Linked DNA regions of Homo sapiens. The protein of the gene in region 5 purifies or fractionates together with the protein of the main gene of each other region. This does not show direct contact. Each region holds a gene or a part of one and is shown on either strand. Other genes may lie near its edges.

Evidence for each region.
Region 1: the proteins of SHTN1 (region 5) and TPM4 fractionate together in Homo sapiens (co-fractionation; one large-scale study listed by BioGRID). This does not show direct contact.
Region 2: the proteins of SHTN1 (region 5) and UNK fractionate together in Homo sapiens (co-fractionation; one large-scale study listed by BioGRID). This does not show direct contact.
Region 3: the proteins of SHTN1 (region 5) and CAP1 fractionate together in Homo sapiens (co-fractionation; one large-scale study listed by BioGRID). This does not show direct contact.
Region 4: the proteins of SHTN1 (region 5) and SMS fractionate together in Homo sapiens (co-fractionation; one large-scale study listed by BioGRID). This does not show direct contact.
Region 6: the proteins of SHTN1 (region 5) and COLGALT1 fractionate together in Homo sapiens (co-fractionation; one large-scale study listed by BioGRID). This does not show direct contact.
Region 7: the proteins of SHTN1 (region 5) and RRM1 fractionate together in Homo sapiens (co-fractionation; one large-scale study listed by BioGRID). This does not show direct contact.

Annotation. Positions count from the first base shown.
Region 1 is NC_000019.10:16,089,995-16,093,494, forward strand, and holds part of TPM4 (tropomyosin alpha-4 chain), read left to right. Parts: intron 1-3,500. UniProt on the Homo sapiens protein: Binds to actin filaments in muscle and non-muscle cells. Plays a central role, in association with the troponin complex, in the calcium dependent regulation of vertebrate striated muscle contraction.
Region 2 is NC_000017.11:75,819,306-75,822,805, reverse strand, and holds part of UNK (RING finger protein unkempt homolog), read right to left. Parts: intron 3,123-3,500; coding exon 3,021-3,122; intron 2,887-3,020; coding exon 2,698-2,886; intron 330-2,697; coding exon 148-329; intron 1-147. UniProt on the Homo sapiens protein: Sequence-specific RNA-binding protein which plays an important role in the establishment and maintenance of the early morphology of cortical neurons during embryonic development.
Region 3 is NC_000001.11:40,043,729-40,047,228, reverse strand, and holds part of CAP1 (adenylyl cyclase-associated protein 1), read right to left. Parts: intron 1-3,500. UniProt on the Homo sapiens protein: Directly regulates filament dynamics and has been implicated in a number of complex developmental and morphological processes, including mRNA localization and the establishment of cell polarity.
Region 4 is NC_000023.11:21,947,209-21,950,708, reverse strand, and holds part of SMS (spermine synthase), read right to left. Parts: intron 1-3,500. UniProt on the Homo sapiens protein: Catalyzes the production of spermine from spermidine and decarboxylated S-adenosylmethionine (dcSAM).
Region 5 is NC_000010.11:116,928,688-116,932,187, reverse strand, and holds part of SHTN1 (shootin-1), read left to right. Parts: intron 1-2,185; coding exon 2,186-2,339; intron 2,340-3,500. UniProt on the Homo sapiens protein: Involved in the generation of internal asymmetric signals required for neuronal polarization and neurite outgrowth.
Region 6 is NC_000019.10:17,572,649-17,576,148, reverse strand, and holds part of COLGALT1 (procollagen galactosyltransferase 1 precursor), read right to left. Parts: intron 1-3,500. UniProt on the Homo sapiens protein: Beta-galactosyltransferase that transfers beta-galactose to hydroxylysine residues of type I collagen. By acting on collagen glycosylation, facilitates the formation of collagen triple helix. Also involved in the biosynthesis of collagen type IV.
Region 7 is NC_000011.10:4,101,299-4,104,798, reverse strand, and holds part of RRM1 (ribonucleoside-diphosphate reductase large subunit), read right to left. Parts: intron 2,807-3,500; coding exon 2,718-2,806; intron 1-2,717. UniProt on the Homo sapiens protein: Provides the precursors necessary for DNA synthesis. Catalyzes the biosynthesis of deoxyribonucleotides from the corresponding ribonucleotides.

The DNA.
Region 1 (3,500 bases), on a different chromosome or scaffold from region 5:
AATTTTTATAATTTTTGGTAGAGATGAGGTTTCACCACATTGGCCAGGCTGGTCTCGAACTCCTGATCTCAAGTGATCTGCCCGCCTCGCCCTCCCAAAGTGCTGGGATTACAGGCATGACCCACTGCACCTGGCCTAGAGATGAGATCTTGCTCTGTTGCTTAGGCTGGAAGTGTAGTGGCGTGATCATAGCTCACTGCAGGCCCCAAACTCCTGGGCTTAAATAATCCTATCACCTCAGCTTCCTGAGTAGCTAGGACTTGCAGGCATGTGCCACTACTCCAAAACTGTATTTTTTTTTTTTTTTTTATAGAGCACAGTCTATGTTGCCTAGGCTGGTCTTAAACTCCTGGCCTCAAGTGATCCTCCCACCTTAGCCTCCCAAAGTGCTGGGATTACAGGCGTGGGCCACCGTGCCTGGCTAATTTTTCTAGTTTTTGGTAGAGACAAGGTTTCATCATGTTGGCCAGGCTGGTCTTGAACTCCTGGCCTCAAGTGATCCTCCCACCTTGGCCTCCCAAAGTGCTGGGATTACTTTGGGAGGCCGCCGAGCCTGGCCTCCTGTTCATCCTTTGAGCTTCTGCTTAAACATCACTTCTGAGAGTCCTTCTCTGATTTCTCATCTAGGTTAGGTATTTCTCTGCTGTGTAGCCCTGTCTATACTTTTGCTGGCATTATGATTTCTTACATTTATTATAGTTACTCCATTAATTGCATGCCTTCCTTGCTAGATTGTAAGTTGTAAGGACAGGAACCATGTCATCTTGTTCAGAGTTGTGTCCCTAGTACTAGCATTGTGCCTGGCATATATCTGTAGTGTGTGTGTGTAATTTTTTTTTTTTTTTTTTTTTTAGTAGAGATGGTGTTTCACCATGTTGCCCAGGCTGATCTCAAACTCCTGGCCTCGAGTGATCCACCTGCCTCTGTCTCCCATATGTGCCAGCCCTGGCATATATCTGATACTAGGATGTGTAAGGAATGAATCCAGTTGGTGTGTGTATGCCAGACACTGCCCCGGGCCAGGGGGATAGATGTAACACCACTAATACCTCAGCTGCTTTGTTTTGTTTTGTTTTGAGATGGAGCCTTGCTCTGTCGCCCAGGCTGGAGTGCAGAGGCACGATCTCAGCTCACTGCAACCTCCACCTCCTAGGCTCAAGCAATTCTCCTGCCTCAGCCTCCTGAGTAACTGGGAATACAGGCGCACACACCACGCCCAGCTAATTTTTGTATTTTTAGTAGAGACGGAGTTTCACCATGTTGGCCAGGCTCGTCTCAAACTCCTGACCTCAAGTGATCCACCCACCTCGGCCTCCCAAAGGGCTGGGATTACAGGTGTGAGCCACTGTGCCCAGCCTGGCATCTGCTCTTGAAGAGCTCAGAGTCGAGTCTAGTGGAAGGGATTGACAAAGTCACAGAGTGCTTTGGGAATACAATAGAGGGACCTTGGTAGGTTGTGAACGGTGTCACCAAGGAGGCGACATTTAAAACAGCTGTAGGTCCAGCACGGTGGCTCATGCCTGTAATTCCAGCACTTTAGGAAGCCGAGGCGGGAGGATCGCTTGAGCTCAGAAGTTCGAGACCAGCCTGGGCAACATGGAGAGATCCCGTCTCTACCAAAAATACAAAAACTAGCTGGGCATGGTGGTGCATGCTTGTGATCCTAGCTACTTGGGAGGCTGAGGTGAGAGGATCACTTGAGCCTGGAGGGCGGAGGTTGCATTGAGCCAAGATTGCCCCACTGCACTCCAGAGTCAGGCTTCAGTCATGACTTGATCACTTAATAGCCATGTGACCCTAGGCAAAATAATAACTTCACCTTTCTGTGACCCTTTCCTCCCCTATAAAATGGGATTACAGATACCAGGCTGTGATGCCATTAACTATGTCTGGCCCATGGTAAGCAGCTAATAAGTGTTAGTTATTATTGGGAGGCCGAGGCAGGCGGATCACCTGAGGTCAGGAGTTCGAGAGCAGCCTGGCTGGCCATCGTAGCGAAACCCCATCTCTGCTAAAAATAACAAAAATTAGCTGGGCATGGTGGTGGGCGCCTGTAGGCCCAGCTACTTGGGAGGCTGAGTCAGGGGAATTGCTTCAGCCTGGGAGGCAGAAGTTGCAAGTCACAGTGAGCCGAGATCGTACCACTGCACTCCAGCCTGGGTGACAGAGCAAGATTCTGTCTGAAAAAAAAAAAAAAGAAAAGAAAAGTATAATTTCTGATGGGTCATCATGGGGAGGGGAACATTCCATGCTAAGGGGTGCATTCATGGACAGGGACTGGGACTCAGGAGTCCACAGATTATGATCAGGGAGTGCCTGTCACCCTGGGGAAGGTGGTGGAGAATGGGGTTGGAAATACAGAGGGGGCCTTGAGTAACAGATTCCCAGTTATCTCCCTTTCTTCGCCATACTTTTTATCTCAAGTTCTCAGTTTAGGCCTTCTGATCAATACCATCCTACAGGACTCTCCCCAACATCCTCCACATTTCACACATATTTCTTCTGCTGGGGAAAGGTGCCTGCCTCTACTCTGCCTACTTTTTTTTTTTTTTCTTTTTGAGATGGAGTCTCACTCCATCGCCCCAGGCTGGAGTGCGGTGGCGCCATCTGGCCTCACTACAGCCTCCACCTCCTGGGTTTAAGCAATTCTCATGCCTTAGCCTCCTGAGTAGCTGAGATTACAGGCACCCACCACCACACCTGGCTAATTTTTGTATTTTTAGTAAAGACAGCGTTTCGCCATGTTGGCCAGGCTGGTCTCGAACTCCTGACCTCAAGCGATCCACCCGCCTTGGCCTCCCAGAGTACTGGGATTACAGGCGTGAGCCACCGTGCCTGGCCTGCTTACTTCTTTTTATGCTTCTTCCTCCTTTTTTTTGAGATGGGGTCCTGCCCTGTTGCCCAGGCTAGAGTGTAGTGGTCCAATCAGAGCTCTCTGCAGCCTTGAATTCCAGGGTTCAAGCCATCTTCCCTCCTCAGCGTCCCCATTAGCTGGGACTACAGGTGCTCACCACCATGACTGGCTAATTTTTAAATTCTTTGTAGAGACGGGGTCTCACTATGTGACCCAGGTTGGTCTCAAATTCCTGGGCTCAAGTAATTCTCCCACCATGGTCCCCCAAAACACTGGAATCACAGGTGAGAGCCACCACACCCAGCCCTCCTTTTCTTTCTTTCTGTTTTTTTTTTGTTTTTGTTGTTGTTGTTGTTTGTTTTTTTGAGATGGAGTCTTACTCTGTCACCCAGGCTGGAGTGCAGTGGCGTGATCTCGGCTCACTGCAACCTCCACCTCCCAGGTTCGAGTGAGTCTTCTGCCTCATCCTCCCCAGTAGCTGGGACTACAGCTGCATGCCACCAAGCCTGGCTAATTTTTGTATTTTTAGTAGAGACGGGGTTTCACCATGTTGGCCAGGCTGGTCTCGAACTCCTGACCTTGTGATCCACCAGCCTCAGGCTCCCAAAGTGCCAGGATTCCAGGCATGAGCCACCATGCCTGGCTG
Region 2 (3,500 bases), on a different chromosome or scaffold from region 5:
AGGGGGAGAGCGAGCGAACAAAACTGAGTTTCTGCTCTGTTCTTCCAGCCCCCGCTTTCCCCCACCCCACGCCCACTCTGTGAAGGAAGGTCTTGGGCTGGATGCCACCTGGCACTGGGGAAGGCCGGCAGGCACGGGGCCTGGTACCTGCTTGGCCTGCTTCCAGGACTCCTCCCACTGCTTGATGGTGCTGTTGGCTTCATCCAGCTCTTGCCGAAGTCGGGCCAGCTCGGCAGCCCCTGGCCCTGATAGGAAAGCGGGGGAAGTGCCCGGGGAGAAGCTTCCAGAGGCAAAATGCTCCCAGATGCTGCTGTTCATCCCGTTCAGACCTGCCCCAAGGAGGGGAAGAACATCAGCTCCGGAGGGCTTTGGGCCCAGGCCCTGGCCAGCCCTGCCTCAGAGGTTCCAGGGACTGGCTGTCCACTGGATGGGTGTGCAAGGCTCCAGCTAGTGTCAGGCCAGAGAATTTTGCAGGGACAGGAAGGCTGTGAAGGTGCAGGTGGCGTGGGCGGAGTCAGACCTAACCTTGAGTGACACCTGCTAGTTGGTGCCACTCAACTTCCGAGGCTCAGCACCCTCATGTGGGAAATGGGACTCCCACACTGGCCTCACCGGGTAACTCAGGGGACTCAGGAAGTACTGCATGTGAGAGCAGTCCCAGGCCCCCGATAGTGGCAATTTATGATTGTGGCTTCACTTTTAGGCTAGGGCCTTTTTGCAGCCTGATGTGAGGCCCAGGAAGAGATAAAGGGGAAAAGACAGGCCAGAGCCTCATCGGATGGCAGAGCTGGGGCAGGAAGAGCTCAGGGAGCCTTGGGGCCATCCCCCTTGTTTTACAGACAAGGACCCTGGATAAAATGTTTTACCAAGAATCACACAAATTGTAAGTGGTAGGGCCAGGACACAGACAGGGAGTGTGGTTCCAAAGGCCTATGCTTTCCAGTCAACTATGCTGCGTGCACAGCCTCCCACCCACCGCCAACCCAGCTGCCCTCTGCTCACTCGCTCAACAGATGTTTACTAACATCAGGTCCCCCTGCTCTGGCCCCCAGGGCAGCCCCGGGCTTCCGAGAAGGACCCATATCCACCTCTGGCCTCACTCTGCCCATATGTACTTTCTGGTGACTTCTTCCTTGCTCCCTTTCCCACTAATCCAACCAGGATGTTCCAGAACCAGATTTAAGACGCTTTGCTCTCTGAGACACACAAGTGCACCCACAGAGGAGGGACATGGTCCTGTGCGGAGACCCTGTGGCATGCACTGTCTGAGCCATCTGCCCCATCCCAGAGGAAGACCTCAGGGTCACCCCACCCACATGAGACCAGCCCTGCAGCAAGCTCTCCTGTCCCACCCATCTCTCCTCCTCCCTTGGAGAAGCTCTCCTGACTCTGCTGTCCAGGTAGGCCCCTCTATGATTCTCAGGAGGATCCCAATGGCTGGGCACCTCTGCTTCCCACACTGGCCACAGCTGCTGGACAGCAGGGACTGTTGCACTTACACCTGTATCAATACACCTGTGCTCAATAGTCACATGGTGCAGGAAGGAGTGTGTGGCCAGTAAGTGGAGCTAAGTCTAGACGCCACCAGAAGCTGGGCATGGTGGTGCACGCCTGTGGTCCCAGCTACTCAGGAGGCTGATGTGGAAGGATTACCTGAGCTCAGGAGTTCCAGGCTGCAGTGAGCTAGGATCATGCCACTGCACTGCACTCCAGCCTGGGTGACAGACTGAGACCCTACTCGAAAAAAAAAAAACAGATCCTATCCGAATATGGGGCAAGTCCGAAAAATGCAACACCAAGCACCTAAAGCTGACAGAATCAACGTAACAGAGAACAGCCTCTTCAAACTGGAAGGCGCTGAGAAATCCATGTGCTGTTCTGGGATCAGGAATGAGATAAGGGAAGCCACCAAACCCAATCAGAACTCTGAAGGGCTCATTCCCTGGGCCCGAGCAAAATGCTGGCACTCTCGGGGAGGGAGCTCCTGGTGTCTGCAGCTGCTGGGGGAGAGTGAGAGCGGTGGTGCCATGTGCTTCCCATCCCGCCCTCAGGAACATCCCCTGACACACACAAGAGGAGATGCACAGCCGGCCCGCAGTGGCACAGGCCTCTGTGCCATTCTTCTAGCCACTAAACCTTGAAGTGCCCTCAGAAACCCCCATTCCATACCATTCTAATTCTGTGGGCAAACAGCCTTCTGGGCCAGCCCTGGGCCTCCCTGGAGCCTCTGCCCGGCAGGAAGGGCACCCGAAGCCAGGGGTTAACCTGTCTGGCTTCTCCCTTGGTCCCCTGTGAACCTGGCTGGTGCGAGCCAGCCTCTCGGAGCCTGGGGTGACTGGGCAGAACAGAACCATGCTGTGAAAGAGACCAGGCCCAGCCCTGGCAACTGAGACCCCTGCTCTCACCTGCACTGGCCTCGTGCCTAGCACTTCAGCCCCATTACTCCATTCAATGCTCACAACGTTAGGAGGTGGATGCTGCCGTTATACCCATTTCACAGCAGAGGAAACTAAGGCAGAGAGGCTCAATCACTTGTCCAGGGTCACACAGACAGGAATCTGACTCTGCCTCCTCGCCCAAGGCCTCTGCCCTAACCCCCAGCCTAGCTGATATGCCGTAGATGGGGTGGCCAGAGGCACCTCCTAAAGGCGCAGGTTCCTGCCCCAGTTCTCCTGAGTGAACCACTCCCTCTCTTACCCAAAGATCCATGTGATGCTGAGGTTCCCAAAAATGTGTTTTCCGACTGACTCAGGTGGCCCTGGGGCTGCTGCAGGAAATGCGAGGAGAGGCTGACGGGAGGGGACGGGGATGCTGAGTGGAAGGAGGCAGAGCTGCCCAAGGAGCCGGGGATGTTCACGGGTGCAGAGCTCTGCAGCAAGCTGCCGCCTGCAAGAGAGGCCCGGGGAGGACGGGCTGGGTGAGGGCAGCGGAAGCCAGGCGGGCCACACAGAGCAAGGGGCCTGAGCCAGGCAGGAACCCGAGGAGTCCTCCAGGCTGCCCTGCCCACCCACACCCAGTACCGATGGTGATGCTTCCTGGGTGGGGCACTGTGCTGTTATCGAAAGTCTTCTCCAGGGCGGCCACGCCAAACTCATTCAGGTCCAGGTCATCCAAAGCAGACTCTAGGGACAGAGAAGAGTGGGATGTGACCTCCCGAGGGACTATCTGACCCTGACCACCTCGTCTACTGCCCACGCTGCATCTTCACGCCCATGCTACGCTGGGTCCGTATTCTCCCAAGCCCCTGTGCCCTTCCTTCAGCTGCTTCCTATGCCAATCCTGACTCCTGACTTCTGACACCGTCTGCCAGTCATGTCCAACCCAAATGCCTCTCCTTTCTGAATCTTCTTTGATACTTCCAGGAGAAATCACATCCCCATCCAGGGTCCCTGCCTCGGACAAGGGTCTTGTCCCCTGATGTTACAACTCAAGGGTCTCAGCCCCGGGATCAGTGGGGGTGGGCGGGTCTCTGGGCACTCAGTGGCTGGTGTATAGCAGGT
Region 3 (3,500 bases), on a different chromosome or scaffold from region 5:
GAAACTACAGTCATGCATTACATAATGACATTTTGGTCAATGGATGGACCACAAAATCAACAGTGGTCCCATAAGATTATATGGGATTATATGGGGATTAATCAACACAAAATCCCATAAGATTATAATACCCTATTTTTACTGTACTTTAAAAATGTGGCCGGGCGCGATGGCTCATGCCTGTAATCCCAGCACTTTGGGAGGCCAAGGCTAGCAGAACACAAGGTCAGGAGTTTGAGACCAGCCTGGCCAATATAGTTAAACCCCATCTCTACTAAAAATACAAAAATTAGCTGGGCGTGGTGGTGCGCACCTGTAGTACCAGCTACTCAGGAGGCTGAGGCAGAAGAATTGCTTGAACCCAGGAGGCGGGGGTTGCAGTGAGCCAAGATCGTGCCACTGCACTCCAGCCTGGGCGACAGAGTGAGACTCCGTCTCAAAAAAAAAAAAAAAAAGTTTAAATAAACAAATACTTACACTGTGTTACAAACTGCCTACAGTATTAGATACAGTAACATACTATACAGGTTTGTAGCCCAGGAGTAATAAGTTACACCATGTGCAGTATCATCTAAATTTGTGCAAGTACACTCTATGATGTTCCCACAATGATGAAATCACCTAATGACAAATTTCTCAGAATGTACCTGTCATTAAGCAACACATGACTGTATAATTTTATCAACTAAAATAAATGTGAATAACTCCATAAACTATATGCAACTTTAGTGTTTGTTTGTTTTTTTTTGTTTTGTTTTGTTTTTTTGAGACGGAGTCTTGCTCTGTCACCCAAGCTGGCGCAGATCATGCAGTGGCACGATCTTAGCTCACTGCAACCTCCACCTCCCCGGGTTCAAGTGATTCTCCTGCCTCAGCCTCCCTAGTAGTTGGGATTACGGTACATGCCACCACACCCAGCAAATTTTTGTAATTTTAGTAGGGACGGGGTTTTACCATGTTGGCCAGGCTGGTCTCGAACTCCTGACCTCAGGTGATCCACCCGCCTTGGCCTCCCAAAATGCTGGGATTACAGGCGTGAATCACCACGCCCAGCCTATATGCAACTTTAAAATAAATGATAGTCCCTGTCCACTAAAACCAAGCACTCTAAATACAAGGAACACAAACAAAACAGGAATTCACACAATTTTCAATAGAGAGGGAAATCTGCTGACTTACACCATCAACAAGAAGCTTGCTTCTAGTACTCAAACCAATGGCACTTCTCTTAAGATCACATCTGCCAGGTGTGGTGGCTCATGCCTGTAATCCCAGTGACTCAGGAGACTGAGGCCAGAGAATCACCTGAGGCCAGGGGTTTAAGACCAGCCCAGGCAACATAGCAAGACCCTGTCTCTGAAAAAAATCAAACATTTGGCCGAGCGCATGGTGGCTCATGCCTGTAATCCCAGCACTTTGAGAGGCTGAGGTGGGTGGTTCCCTTGAGGAGTTCGAGACCAGCCTGGCCAACATGGCAAAACCCTGTCCCTACTAAAAATACAAAAATTAGCTGAGTGTGGTGGTGTGTGCCTCTAGTCCCAGCTACTCAGGAGGCTGAGGCAGGAGAACTGCTTGAACCCGGGAGGGGGAGGTTGCAGTGAGCCAAGATCACGCCACTGCACTCCAGCCTGGGCGACCGAGCAAAACTCCATCTCAAAAAAACAAAAAACAAAAGAAAGAAAAAGAACTGTAGTCCCAGCTACTCAGGAGGCTGAAGCGAGAAGATTACTTGAGCCCAAAAGTTGGAGGTTGCAATCAGCCATGATTGCACCATTGTACTCCAACCTGCCCACCCAGAAATTCCTTGAAGGAACAGTAATTTCTTGAAGCTTCAACAGAAACAAATGATTCATTCATTGTAGGATACTGAGTGCTTATCATGTACCATCGACTGTGCTAAGTATGGCTATGGGGCCTGCCCTCACAGAATTTAGTTGGGGACATTGTACAATCATAGCTACGATACTTTCTAACGCAGCAATTCTCAACCAGGGGCAATTTTGTCCTCCAGGAGACATATGGCAATGTCTGAAGACATTTTTGGTTGTCACAACTGAGGAAGTCTTATTGGCATCTACTGGGTAGAGACAGATGCTGCTTAACATCCCACAGTGCACAGGACAACTCCATAATAAAGAATTATATGGCCAGGCGCGGTGGCTCACACCTGTAATCCCAGCACCTTGGGAGGCCGAGGCGAGCAGATCACGAGATCAGGAGATCAAGACCACAGTGAAACCCCGTCTATACTAAAAATACAAAAAATTAGCTGGGCCTGGTGGCGGGCGCCTGTAGTCCCAGCTACTCGGGAGGCTGAAGCAGGTGAATGGCGTGAACCCGGGAGGCTGAGCTTGCAGTGAGCCGAGATTGTGCCACTGCACTCCAGCCTGGGTGACAGATAGAGACTCTGTCTCAAAAAAAAAAAAAAAAAAAAAAAAAAGAATTATATGGCCCAAAATGTCAATTGTGCCAACGTTGAGAAACCCTGTTCTAATTTAATAAGGAGCATAGGGAGGTGCAAAAGGTTAAGTAAAATGCTAGTTCACGACTTTCTAAATTAGAAAGTCAACCTGTATCATCTAATAAAAATTAAGATAAGGGTCTAAACTGTAGAGAATTCTGTAAGATGGAAAAAAGAGTTCAGAATTTATTCTTTGTAAATATGAAGTCAGTGAAGACTAACAAGATGAAAAATGCTTCTTCTTAGAGAACTTTAAAAAGATTTGTCTGGTTGTCATAGAGAAACTGAAGTATAGGTCATGAAAGCCAGGTTAGCACAAATAAAGAAAGAAACTGATGTCAACATTTCAAAGTAATAATCACTAAAATTGGGTAAGATACCGCTCGAGAACTCTCATATTTCAAATCTCAGCATTAAATTTCAAACCAGAGGTTCGGCTTCCAGTGACACATTGCATTTGCTTAAGTAAAAAAAAATTTGATTCACAATGCTTCACAAAAAACTGAAAGGAGGAAGTCACCTTTTTTTTTTCTGGTAGAGACAGGGGTCTCACTATGTTGACCAGGCTAGTCTCTAACTCAGCCTCAAGAAAGTCACTTTTTAAAAGCTAAAAAAATAACTGCAACCAGGAAAAAGGGTGAGAATAAAAGATCATCCCTAGGTTGGAAACAAAACATTTTACAGACTCAATAGCTAAACTCCAAAGCAAAAATATACTCACTGAATCTTAACAATATCACCACTTTTGGTTTGCACATCAGGCTGTATTCTACAAAGTACTTTTGCTGCTACCATTTTATTTAAACTTCTCTGAGATATCAATTATGCCTACCCAATTGAGGAAGTATTTCTGGAAAAAGCGAGAAATTTCTTTTTTCTTTTCTTTTTTTTTTGAGACAGAGTCTCACTATCACCCAGGCTGGAGTGCAGCAGTGCAATCTCAGCTCACTGCAACCTCCGCCTCCCGGGTTCAAGCGAGTCTCCTGCCTCAGCCTCCCAAGTAGCTGGGACTACAGGCATGCACAACCACGCCCAGCTA
Region 4 (3,500 bases), on a different chromosome or scaffold from region 5:
CAGAAAACCAAACACCACATGTTCTCACTCATAAGTGGGAGCCCAACAATGAGAACACATGAACACAGGGAAGGGAACATCATACACCTGGGCCTGTCAGGGGGTGGGGGGCAAGGGGAGGGAGAGCATTAGGACAAATGCATGCAGGGTCTAAAACCTAGATGACAGGTTGATAGGTATAGCAGACCACGATGGCACATGTATACCTATGTAACAAACCTGCACGTTCTGTACTGCATCCCAGAACTCAAATTAAAAAAAAAAAAAAAAAAAAAGTCCTGTCATATTCTTGCATCTCATACCAAAGGGAGTTAATAGTAAGCTCTTTCCTCTCTCTTCTCAACATCAAGCCTCCAGCTCCAAATTAGACAAACCCCCACGTAGGAACAAACACTTGGACTGAGAAACCCATGACCATCTTCCTCAAAATTCCACATGCAACTGGGCCACTTAGCTACTGCCTTATACAGTTAAAAGATTCAGTGTTAAGCCATTTATAAAACTTCAGCCAGGTACTGCAGTGTGCACCAGTAACATTAGTGACTCAGGAGTCTCAGGCTGGAGGATCCCTTGAGTCCAGGAGCTCGAAATCAGTCTGAGCAACACAGCAAGACCCCATCTTTGAAAAACAAAAACAAAAAACTATGCCACTACTGTTTTCCAAAGCATGATCCAAGGCACTGGCCCTGAAAATACACGTTGAATATCCTTTATCCAAAATGCTTGGGACCGAAAGTGTTTTGGATTTTTTTTTTTTTCCACTTTGGAATATCTGCATCACACTCACTGACTCAAAGTCCCTAATCTGGAAATCCCGAATCAGCATTTTTTTGTGTTATGTCGGTGCTCAAAGTTTCAGATTTTGGAGCATTTCGGATTAGGGATGCTCAACCTGTACTCTAAGAAAAAGGATTGAGGAACAGTTCTATATTCACCTCTGCACTGTAAGGCCAGCAAAGGAATTTGGAATGCCCACAGGCACATAAGTCTTGTTTGAACACTGTGATCTACAGTCCTTCTAGAAGGGAGAATTCAGAATTAAATACAGCAGTGTTCTAGGAATTGCTCAGGATTCTCACTGGAGAAATTTTCATTTATGAAAAAAAATGGAGTCATGCAACACAAGTAATTGATATCTTAAATCAAAGTGTCCTTTTAAAATTCTGCTTTAATCACTTAGGGAGGAAGCCCTTTAAATAAAGTAGACCAACCTTCAAAACACAGGGCAACCCATTATTTTCTGCCTCTTCTCTTGCCAGCAGAGCTTTCGTTACCCTTCAAGTAAGTTAAATTCACACCTCTTTATAACTGAGCATCTTTATCCACTGGCACAATTTCAAAGTACTCTGCCCTAAGTATTGCAATTAGTGTTAGGTATTTTATGTATCATTTGATACTCTTCCAAACATTTTATTGGACATTCCACCCAACGACACAGTGTGTGGGATTTTAGTATCATTAGCACCTTCATGGAGAGGGAAAAATTAAGGTGTGTGTAAAACTACCCAGAGTCAAGTCAGTTCAGGAATCTAGAACATGCTACTGGCTCTTACCAGCTCCTTTTGAATCTGTGGCTTAGCACGTAAACACATTTATCACCAGTATCACCACTAGCTAGCTCGGTGGCTCCTTCCGGAACACAGATGACAGTGTCAATTTAATGAAACCCAGGCCCACCACACCTCAGGGCCGCAGGGTTGTTTTTCCTGGGGTCTGGAAAAGTGCCTAGCTGTAAGGGTTTTAAAGAGCATTTGTGCATGGTTTACATACGTGGTTCGCAGATTCAATTGAGGAGGTTTTCTGACTTTTCAAAAGAACTGAGTCTATACCATGAAATGGTGGTCGGAGCCACAGTGCACACCAGCAGGCTTAGGTTACAACTGCAGTGAAATAGTGAATTAAAACACCTGGAATATGCAGACTCCAAAAACTAAACTAAGAACTTTATTGACGTTTTTAAACAGATGCTAGTAACTTTATAACTAATCCTTATCTGTGAAAGGTTAGCATAACCATGGTGATCGCAATTATAAAGCCCATAATCTCCAATCTTCTGGGTATGAAATCCAAAATCAAAAGCTCTAACTTTTTAAAGCTATTAGAGAACACAGCATTTTAATCTTTATCTCCTGAGAAGGTAGCTAAGGCCTGAAACTACCAATTCAAACAAAACGGAGTAAATTACATACTAAGGGGATGAGAAGATTCCCAATTGGTAACTCCTCCACTGCAAATGCAAAAGTGACTTTCTTAAAAAAAAAAAAAAAAAGACACATTGACTGACTACTGGTTATTAAATTAGAATGTCTCATGCGGGGCTTCAGATTACTTGAAAAAGTACCCCTCTCTTGTTAGCCAGGATGGGGGTCACTCCTAGCGCCTTGATTATGGAGTCAATTTCTTAAACAGCTGTCATCCCTTCCAAAGCATTTTAAATACTGAACTACCCAATGAGAACTAGATGAGGATTACAGATATGAAGTAGAAACTAAAATCTTACCATATGCTACCTCCATAGGTTTAAGGAAATCGGTATAACTTGGAAACTACAATCTAAAAAGAATCATTGTGGTTTACTCAATTTTTTAATGGCAAGCCCACAAAACTAATTCCCGGCAACATGAGGTTATTCAGCCTGGAGTCATATAGAGCATAACCTGTGCAATTAAGAATCTTTTGCAGAGTTGGGAAAAGAGCATTTAAAAAAAAAATCACAAAGCAAAAGCGCATGCCAAAGGAAGGCAATGCCAACAAGGGATCTCCCGGAAGCAGCCCATAAAATATTTTCAAACACAATTAACGCATGAGAATTCCTATGTAAAGCACACAAAAAAGTCTTCTCCAAAGCTGTCAAATCCTGAGTCCAGGTGCTTCCTGGCTACCGGGAAGCACAAGGAATATACTGGGGGAAGAGGAAAAACCGGGTAGAAATTGACCTTGTATGTGTTGATACAGAGTTTAGACTTCATCCATGGGGTAATAGGGACCCACGGAAGAGTTTTTAAATGGGAAAAGGGACAGGGATCCTGTTGAGTTCCTAATGATCGGGCCCATCCCCAAACGGAGACAAATGGGGAGACTGTAGCCAGGAAACTAAAGTAAGGAACAGGTGATGAGCAACAAATTTGAGAACATTGGCAGGCAGAAGCCACAGGACTTAATGAGACTGACTAGGCTGACTGGTTGGGCTGAGTGAGGTAGGTGTGCCAAAGGTTTCAGACAAGTTTTTGTTGTTGTTGTTTTAAATAAGGAACCTACTAGAGGAGTTCTCATACTTTAATCAGCAACAGAATTACTGTGAGGCAGATGATTAAAAATGCAAAATCCAGGAACTCACCCCCCTCCACCAACTGTGATTCAGTCCGTGTAGAGTAGGGCCCAAGCATGCATTCCCCACTCCCAGTCATCAGCCCCGAAAGGCTGCATTGTTAAAGCAACAGCGTCTGTGCCTGCGGTGTTATCACAATGGGGGATTAAAGTGTAGTGGGACAGGATAATAA
Region 5 (3,500 bases):
TATTTACTCGCATGATCATGTGACTGATTGGGAGCTGTGGCTGGCTGCCGCTGCAGAGGATTGTTGAGAGAGTATCTTATTACATATTGCGAGCCTGGGAAAAGATCAAAATCCAGAATTTGAAGTATGGTTTGTATTGAATGCATGTCGCTTTCACACCATTGTAAAGTCGAAAAACTATCTCAAACCATCCTAAATTGGGGACCATCTGTATGTCGCTTAAAATGTTTCTTAGCTGTCTGTAAGTTCCCTTGCAGATGCAGCAGTCTTTTAAGCACAGCATATGGTTTTTGCAATTATAAAAATAGCATATGCTCCTTATAATACATTTTTAAAATACAGCAAAAGTTAAAGAAGATTAACCAAGTATCCCATATTTTGGTGCATAGCTGAACTTTCTGTAAATATATACCTTTATAAATATAGTTTGTTTAAATTGAATCATACTATGCATACTATTTTATGCCTTGATTTTTTTTCCATTGGTAATATATCTTCTCATGTCAGTATATAGTAAGCTATGTGATTTAAAAGTTGCATAGTATTTCATTGAATAAACATGCTATAATTTATTAAACTAAAAATATTGGTGGACATTTAGGTTATTTGCAACTTTTTGCTGTTGTAAAGAATACTTCAGGCCAGGTGTGGTGGCTCACGCCTGTAATCTCAGCACCTTGGGAGGCCAAAGCAGGTGGATCACTTAAGGCCAGGAGTTCGAAACCAGCCTGGCCAATGTGGTGAAACCCTGTCTCTACTAAAAATACAAAAATTAGCCGGGTGTGGTGACATGTGCCTGTAGCCCCAGCTACTCAGGAGGCTGAAGCACAAGAATTGTTTGAACCCAGGAGGCGAAGTTTGCAGTGAGCCCAGATCGCGCCACTGCACTCCAGCCTGGCCGAAAGAGTGAGACTCTATCTCAGAACAAAAACAAAAACAAAAACGAAACAAAACAAAAAACCACTTCAGTGAATATATTTCAGAGTATTTTAAAAAATAATTTCTAAAAATGGTTTTACTGAATCGAAAGCCTTTCCTTTTTTTTTTTTTTTGAAGACTTTTGATACTTATTACTAAATTTGTGTCCCCCAGGAGTCTTTTAAAATATTACCTGAATTTTTCTTTTGAAAATGGGTACAAAAGTGACCCATGTTTAAAAATTAAAGTGTCTGTGTGACTAACAAGCATATAAAAAATGCTTAACATCACTAATCATTAGAGAAATGAAAATCAAAACCACAATGAGATACCATCTCATGTCAGTCAGAATAGCTGTTACTAAAAAGTCAAAAAATAGCAGATGTTGGCAAGGTTTCAGAGAAATGGGACGCTTAAACACTGCTGGTGGGAATGTAAGTTAGTTCAGCCATTATGGAAGGCAGTGTGGCGATTTCTCAAAGAACTTAACACAGAAATACCATTCAACCCAACAGTCCCATTATTGGATATATGCCCAAAGGAATATAAATCATTCTACCATAAAGACACGTGCACACATATTCATCGCAGCACTATATGCAACAGCAAAGTCATGGAGTCAACCTCAATGCCCATCCGTGGTAGACTGGATAAAGAAAATCTGGTACATATTACACCATGGAATACGGTGTAGCCATAAAAAGGAATGAGATAATGTCCTTTGTAGCAACATGAATGGAACTGGAGGCCATAATCCTAAGTGAACTAACATGGGAATAGAAAACCAAATGTTCTCACTTCTAAGTGGGAGCTAAGCATTGATTACACACGGACACAAAGAAGGGAACAACAGACACTGGGGCTTACTTGATGATGGAGGGTGGGAGGAGAGAGAGGATCGAAAAAGTATCTATCAGGTACTATTCTTTTTACCTTGGTGATGAAACAACCTGTACACCAAGCCCCTGTGACACACAATTTACCTATATAACAACCATGCACATGTACCCCGAACCTAAAATAAAACTTAAAAAAAATTAAAGTGTCTGGTACGTAACTCCCCAGTAAATTTATTTTAAATCAGCTCTTTAGCTGATTTATGATTGTGTGTTAATTGTATCTAGCATTTGCATGGTTGTTAAGATGGATTGGAATCTGTTTGCTATGAAGTACAGTCAAAGGGAAATATTTATTTTTTCCCTTTCTTTTCTTTGACAAAGGAAAAACTGTCAGCCATAAAAGTCTTTTTTTTTTAAATAACTTATAGGTCAAAGAATTAGAAGAGCAACTAGAAAATGAAACACTCCACAAAGAAATACACAACCTCAAACAGCAACTGGAGCTTCTAGAGGAAGATAAAAAGGAATTGGAATTGAAATATCAGAATTCTGAAGAGAAAGCCAGAAATTTAAAGCACTCTGGTAAAAGCATTGAGTAGGCTACTATGTCTTACTATTAATCTTTGAATTACTCATGCCTAGTACAAAACCTGGCATATAGTTAGTCTAGAACATTTACTGAATGCTGTGGAAAAATACCAAGATTTGTTTTGAAATTCCTTAATTTCTAACCATTGCAATTCAGTAGAATAGCTGCTGTATTAAATAATTCAAAAATATTTAGACTAATTTTTTGGACTTAGAGCCCTTGTGAACATCATATACAGAATTTAGACACAGAGATACCGTTAGCCTAGGAAGACCAACTTTTCAGCATTTTTCAGAGCTTCAGAGATGAATGTTCATTATGTACTTTATTTTGTTCACTTAGAGTGCATTTTTAGAAAGAATTAAACTTTTTAAAAATACTGTCTTCATCTTTGGTGTTCATACTACCTTCATCTTTGGTGTCTAATAATACACATGAAATAATACTTTCTATATTGTACCTAACAATGAACTGGGCAACAATATATCTATTAAATGGAAAATCTTTAGAAACACCAGGGGATACTTAAATCAAAAGATTTATTCATTCAGTTCTAGAAGGCTTAACGGGAATGTGCGAGTTAGATTACTATACGGGCATATGTGTAAGTCTCTGTTGGAAGGTCGGTAATTTAAGAAGTCAGGTACATTCCCTTTATAATAGCTTCAATATTCACTTCAGATATTTTTGGTTAATTTTATACTAGAATTTTGAAACCTATGCAGAAGAACCATGTAGGCCTTTTTTCCTTCTAAAAGCATTCAGTGCTTTCTAATCCACAATGAAAATTGATTATAATTTATTTTTTAATTGATCCAAAATTAAGAAGTATTTCATTCTTTTTAGTGAATATCAGAGTAGCCTGTAGCCAAAGCCATCTTTATTATGAATAGAGGAGGCAGACACTGGAAATATATAAGGTTCAAATCTGAATGCCTTCTATTAATACTTATTATCTGCTGTGTGTGTACCCAGCCCTATCCTAGGAAACAATAAGAAATACAGAAGAAAAGAAACCATGCTTTTTGTCTTCAGAGAACTCAGATTCCCCTTGGAGGGATAGGTGCATGCACATAAAAAGACTAGAGGATTCTCAGTTTTGGAGAGCATAGCCCACACTGCCTATTTAAGTGTTGAGGGTAAATACAAATGGA
Region 6 (3,500 bases), on a different chromosome or scaffold from region 5:
CTAGTGCCCAACACAGGGGCTTGGCACACAGCAGGCACTCAGTAATTGCTTGTAGAATGAACCAAGAAATGATGGCATGCTGTATATTCTTGATTGGCCTGGGCCTCAGCTTTCCTCATCTATAAAATGGGCCAATAAGCCACTGAGAGGTTTCACAAAGAGATGTCATGAGATCATGCACTATGTCATGGGGTGAACTGTGTCTCCCCAGTGCCAACCACCAGTACCCCAGGATATGATCCTATTTGGACACAGGGTTGTGTACAGAGGTCATCGAGTTAAAATGAGGTCATTAGGGTGGGCCCTAATCCACATGGCTTGTGTGCTTTTAAAAGGGGAAATCTGTAGCTCCTTGGGAGGCTGAGGCAGAAGGATTGCCCAGGAGTTCAAGGCTGCAGCGAGCTATGATGGTGACACTGCACTCCAGCCTGGGTGACAGAGACTCCATCTCCAAAAAAAGCAAAAAAGAAGGCCGGGCACAGTGGTTCATGCCTGTAATCCCAGCACTTTGGGAGGCTGAGGTGGGCAGATCATGAGGTCAGGAGTTCGAGACCAGCCTGGCCAACATACTGAAACCCTGTCCCCACTAAAAATACAAAAAACTAGCTGGGCGCAGTGGCTCATGCCTGTAATCCCAGCACTTTGGGAGGCCGAGGCAGGTGGCTCACAAGGTCAGGAGATCGAGGCCATCCAGGTTAACACAGTGAAACCCCATCTCCAATAAAAATACAAAAAATTAGCCGGATGTGGTAGCAGGCGCCTGTAGTCCCAGCTACTCGGGAGGCTGAGGCAGGAGAATGGCGTGAACCCAGGAAGCGGAGCTTGCAGTGAGCCGAGATCGGGCCACTGCACTCCAGCCTGGGAGACAGAGCGAGACTCCGTCTCAAAAAAAACAAACAAACAAAAAATAATAAAAATAAAAATACAAAAAATTAGCCAGGCGTGGTGGCAAGCGCCTGTTAAACTCAGCTACTTGGGAAGGTGGGGCAGAATCACTTGAACCTGGGAGGCGGAGGTTGCAGTGAGCCAAGATCGCACCATTGCACTCCAGCCCAGGCGACAGTGCAAGACTCCATCTCAAAAAAATAAAAACCAAAAAAACCAAAAACCTAAATTAACAAATTAGCTGAGCATGGTAGTGGCATGCACCTGTGGTCTCAGCTACTTAGGAGGCTGAGGTGGAAGGATCGCTTGAGTCAAGGAGGTTGAGGCTGCAGTGAGCTGTGATTTTGCCACTGCATTCCAGCCTGGGTAACAGCGAGACTCTGTCTCAAAAAAAGGAAATGACAACACAAATATATGTGAGAACTTAAACTGGGAAAACTCTGGTAGCCACAGAGACGCTTCTCAGGCCCGTTTCTGATGGGAGTTGGTGATAAATGGAGACCCACCACCCCCAACTGTAGCCGGGTGGGACCTGGACACCTAAGTATGCCACTCTTGGGTGTTGTGGGGGGCCTGCCCCAGTGATTGTGCAGTCTCCAGGTGTCACCTCAAAAAGACTCAAAAGTCTCCCCCAGGCCAGGCGCAGTGACACACGCCTGTAATCCCAGCATTCTGGGAGGCCGAGGCAGGTGGATCACCTGAGGACAGGAGTTCGAGGCCAGCCTGGCTAACATGGTGAAACCCCGTCTCTACTAAAAATACAAAATTTGCCAGGTGTGGTGGCAGGTACCTGTAATCCCAACTACTCGGGAGGCTGAGGCAGGGGAATCGCTTGAACCCAGGAGGCGGAGGTTTCAAGTGAGCCCAGAATGCGCCACTGCATTCCAGCCTGGGTGACAAAGTGAGACACCGTCTCAAAAAAAAAAAAAAAGTCTCCCCAAAACACAAAGGGCAGGGTGCTATTCCATCTTGAGCCACCAGGGGGAGCCGCAGATAGACTCGTTCAGAAATCGGTAAGGCTGGGGAAACTGAGCCCCGGGACAGAGGCCTCACCCCTCCCACCCAGTCTCCATCTACGCAGTGGTGGGAATGGCAGTGGCTTTGGCAGGGCTTTCTGCGCCCAGTGCAGGGCGAGGCCCACATTAGCAATGGCTGAGATGGGAGCATCATCCCTAGACAACCTCAATTACAGCTCAGCCCTGCGTGCTCCTCCAGTTTTAGAGGGACGGCTGCTGGTTTCATAGTTCATGGATTTTTTTAAAGTTTTATTTATTTATTTATTGATACAGGGTCTGGCTCTGCTGCCCAGGCTGGAGTGCAGTGAAGCAATCTTGGCTCACTGCAGCTTCGACCTCCTGGGCTCAAGGGATCCTCTCGCCTCAGCCTCCCGAGTAGCTGGGACCACAGGTGTGTGCCATCACGCCTGGCTAATTTTTGTTATTTTTTTTTGGTAAAGACAAGGTTTCACCATGTTGCCCACGATATTCTCAAACTACTGGGTTCCAGGGATCCGCCCACCTTGGCCTCCCAAAGAGCTGGGATAATTATTTTTTATTATTATTATTTTTGAGACAGACTTACTCTATTGCCCAGGCTGTAGTGCAGTGGCACGATTATGGCTCACTGCGGCCTCCAACTCCTGGGCTCAAAGGATTCTCCCACCTCAGCCTCCTGAGTAGCTAGAATACAGGCATGTGCCACCATGTCGGACTAATTAAAAAAAAATTTTTTTTTTTGAGACGGAGTTTCACTCTGTTGCCAGGCTGAAGTGCAGTGGCACGATCTCGGCTCACTGCAACCTCCGCCTCCCAGGTTCAAGTGATTCTCCTGCCTCAGCCTCCCAAGTAGCTGGGACTATAGGCATTCGCTACCACACCCAGCTAATTTTTTTTGTATTTTTAGTAGAGACAGGGTTTCACCATGTTGGTCAGTATGGTCTCCATCTTTTGACCTTGTGATCCGCCCGTCTCGTCCTCCCGAAGTGTTAGGATTACAGGCATGAGCCACCGCACCCGGCCAAAATTTTTTTTAATATAGAGATGGGGTCTCACTATGTTGCCCAGGCTGATCTTGAACTCCTAGGCTCAAGCAATCCTCTTACTTTGGCCTCCCAAAGTGCTGGAATTACAGGTTTGAGTCACCATGCCTGGCCTATACATGCAGTTCTTTAGTGAAAACTTGCTGTCCTCTCAGTTTTCATGTCCTCTATAGCTCCTGACTGTCCTCAGGGGGAAGGTCCCTTCCTCAGCCTGGTCTCTGAGGCCATCCACCCTGGCCCTGGATACCAGCCCCAGGGGATCACTGACCTTGCCTGTTCCCCAGGTTCACGTCCCTTCCAGCCTCCCGGCCTTTGCCCACACTACCACCTCCTGCTGCAATCCCCTTTATGGTGAACTCCTACTCAACCTGCCCCTTAATGCCACCTCCTCCAGGAAGCCCACCCGACAACCCCAAGCATGCTGTGTACAGCTACCTGCAAACCAGCACTCTGTGAGAGCAGACACAACCCTCCACCTCGTTCACACGTGCCGTTGCACCCAGCACCCCCCACAGGGACTTGCATCTGCCTGGCACTCAGTCAGTGCTCATGGGACGGATTTGAGACATCAGTGAAA
Region 7 (3,500 bases), on a different chromosome or scaffold from region 5:
ACTTTCTTTAGCACTTCACAAATTACAAAGTGCAACCTCCGCCCCCGAGGTTCAAATGATTCTCAACCAAAGTTGATAAGTAATTATCAACTTTGATAATCTCTGACATTTCACAATCACTTTGTGAGATGATTATTACTATACCTATTTTACATGAAGAACCTGAGGCTCAGGTTACTGAGACTTGCCCAAGGTTATATTATTATACAAGTCTTCTGGCCCCAATCCCATTAAACCTCACTGCATTTCACTGTTTTCAAGGCCACATTATAAGTTCCAGTTTTTAAGACAGGTAATGCACAGGGTATTAGCATACATTTTTAAGAAAAACAAATTCTAAGTTGTGAGTGGTTTATTTATTGAATCTTTAAGAAACCGCTTAATCCAACAGAAAATAAATGTGTTTCCCAGCTGAACAATGCATACTCCCCTCAAAAAAAGACACATACGTGTGTAACTATTTTAACAGTCTGCAATCTATTCTAATTATAATATAGCTAAGCCCAAGTTGCTCCTGATCACTTTCTTCCCAGATCCAGCAGATAAGGTGTGTTCAGTATAAGAGCAGTGAAGTCTTCTAAATAGTTTCTAGAGCAATAAGGCAAACAATTAGAACTCAGAATAAAATACCATCTGTGTGCTAACTGTGCCAGATCTAACAGCACACAGTTTTTCTTTTTTTCTTTTTGAGACAGGGTCTCATTCTGTGGCCTGTGCTGGAGTACAGTGGCACAATCTCAGCTCACAGCAACCTCAACCTCCAGGGCTCAAGCGATCCTCCCACCACCAAGTAGCTGGGACTACTGGTATGCGCCACCACACCCAACCAATTTTTTTTTTTTTTTTTTTTTTGTAGAAACAGGGTTGAGGGCAGGCACAGTGTGGCTCACACCTGTAATCCCAGCACTTTGGGAGGCCAAGGCGGACAGATAACTTGAGGTCAGGAGTTCAAGACGAGCCTGGCCAACATAGCAAAACCCTGTCTCTACTAAAAATACAAAAAAAAAAAAAAAAAAATAGCGTGGTGGCACATGCCTGTAATCCCAGCTGAGGGAGGCTGAGGCACAAGAATCATTTGATCCCCAGGGGTGGAGGCTGCAGTGGGCCAAGATTGAGCCACTGCACCTGGGCAGTTTCACCATGTTGCCCAGGCTGGTCTCAAACTCCTGAGCCCAAGCAATCTGCCTACCTCAGTCTCCCAAAGTGCTGGGATTACAGATGTGCACCGACAGTTTTTCAACAGAATCTACCCTAGGAAGTTTGAGGATGCTGCAACATTCTTGCGCTCTAAAATGTACTACTGCATGAGGCAATAGAACATGTAGGAGTCAAGAGACCTAGGTGCTTCTCCCTACACTCCCACTAACTTAAGTCACTCCCCTCTCTCTTTGGAACTTTCTTATCTATAAACCAAAGATGAAATGGGATGGACTCTTAAGTTCATTCCAACTCTAACATTCTACTATTCTAATTATTGCCTAAGTCCTCAATATAAAAGAGAATTTACAATAAACATATTTTCAAGATACATAAAATCATTTTCTCTTGACCAAACTTACTTTGGTCAAGTGGCTAATTAGATACATGTCAAGCACTGAGGATATCACAAGAATAAGATACACAGCCCATCCTCAATTCTAGGGGAGGACAAAGATCCATAATTAATTTCCATACTATATGATTAAAGCTATGAGATGAGCACAGGTTTTACGGATAAGATACCTAAGATACCTTAGCAGTGCGGATAAGATACCTAAATAAGGAGACGGAAATATGGGTGGATTTGAAAAAAAGAGTTCTTAGAGATTCTCATTTAAGGAAGATCATTTTAGAAGTCAGGTGGAAGACGAGTTTGAAGAGGGTAAGATTAGAGGAAGTCCAGGACACTGCAGAGACCACAGAAAACAGTCCAGATAACTGATGATGAGAGTCTAGAATACAGAAGTTATAAAGGATAAGGAGAAAAGCAGAGCAACTGGTTTATGAATAGTTTGTTCTTGACTTAAATATTGTCCATGAAATCTACTTTATATTACTTAAATCTTTTTACATAAATAACAAAAAACAAATTTTAAACCAGTCCCTACCTAAATAACCACAATTCCAAAACAAGCTTTACTCTAGGCTTCCCTTTTTTTTTTTTTTTTGAGAGGGAGTCTCGCTCTGTCGCCCAGGCTGGAGTGCAGTGGCACGATCTCGGCTCACTGCAACCTCTGCCTCCCAGGTTCAAGTGATTCTCCTGCCTCCCAAGTAGCTGGGATTACAGGCGCCCACCACCAGGCCCGGCTAATTTTTGCATTTTTAGTAGAGACGGGGTTTCACCATGTTGGCCAGGCTGGTCTTGAACTCCTGACCTCAGGTGATCTGCCCACCTCAGCCTCCCAAAGTGCTGGGATTACAGGCGTGAGCCACGGCGCCTGGCCTAGGCTTTTCCACTAATGAATAAAACAATTTACTCAAGGAAATATCTGATATTAAATGTTAATATCAAATTTTCCTCTTTACTCACATTCATAGTTCTCTGAAAAGTGAGAACTCACAGGACAGAACCAAAATTAAGGAAAAAAAAATGTTTTAAGCAATGAATTCAAATTTTATATCGAAGGGCATAGCCAGAATACCAAAGTATATCAGGTGAATGAAGGTCCAGGGATAAGAGACAAATGGAAAGAAACACATGAAAGAAGGAACCCAAGATAAAAACCATATTTACTTACAGGATCAACAAAATCCATATTGAGTCCATAACAAAGCTTCTGGATTCGAGATGTAATTTTGTCAAACATGACTCGTTCTTGGCGGCCATCTAAAGAATCAAATCATGTTAGCAATTATTAAATTCATGTTAGCAATTATTAAGACTACAATGTCAAAGAATCAAATGTAATTAACATGTAAATTGACCAACATGAAGTGCTATTTCACAGAAAAGATTGAGGCCCCCTCAAAAGATTCATGAAGAGATTGTCTTCTCTGATGTCACCTTCAAAGAGTATGAATTCTATACAGACAGACGTTTACGGATAATTTCCTAAATTTTTCCCCCATCCCACATGGCAGCCAAAATTACCCTTTAAAAGTTAAACTCAGAATCATATCATTACCTCCTTCAAAACTCCTAATAGTGGCTTATGATCTCCAGAATAAAAGTCAAAATTGTTATAACAATCCACAGGCCAGGCCTAGTGGCTCACACCTGTAATCCCAGCACTTTGGGAGGCCAAGGGAGCGGGGGGGGGTGTGGATCACTGGAGGTCAGGAGTTCGAGATCAGCCTGATCAATATGGTGAAACCCCGTCTCTACTAAAAATACAAAAAATTAGCTGGGCATGGTGGCAGGGGCCTATAATCCCAGCTATTCGGGAGGCTAAGGCAGGAGAATTGTTTGAACCCAGGAGGCGGAGGTTGCAGTGAGCTGAGATCACGCCATTGCATTCCAGCCTGGACAACAAGAATGAAACTCCAACTAAAAAAAAAAAAAAATCCACAGAATCCTATAC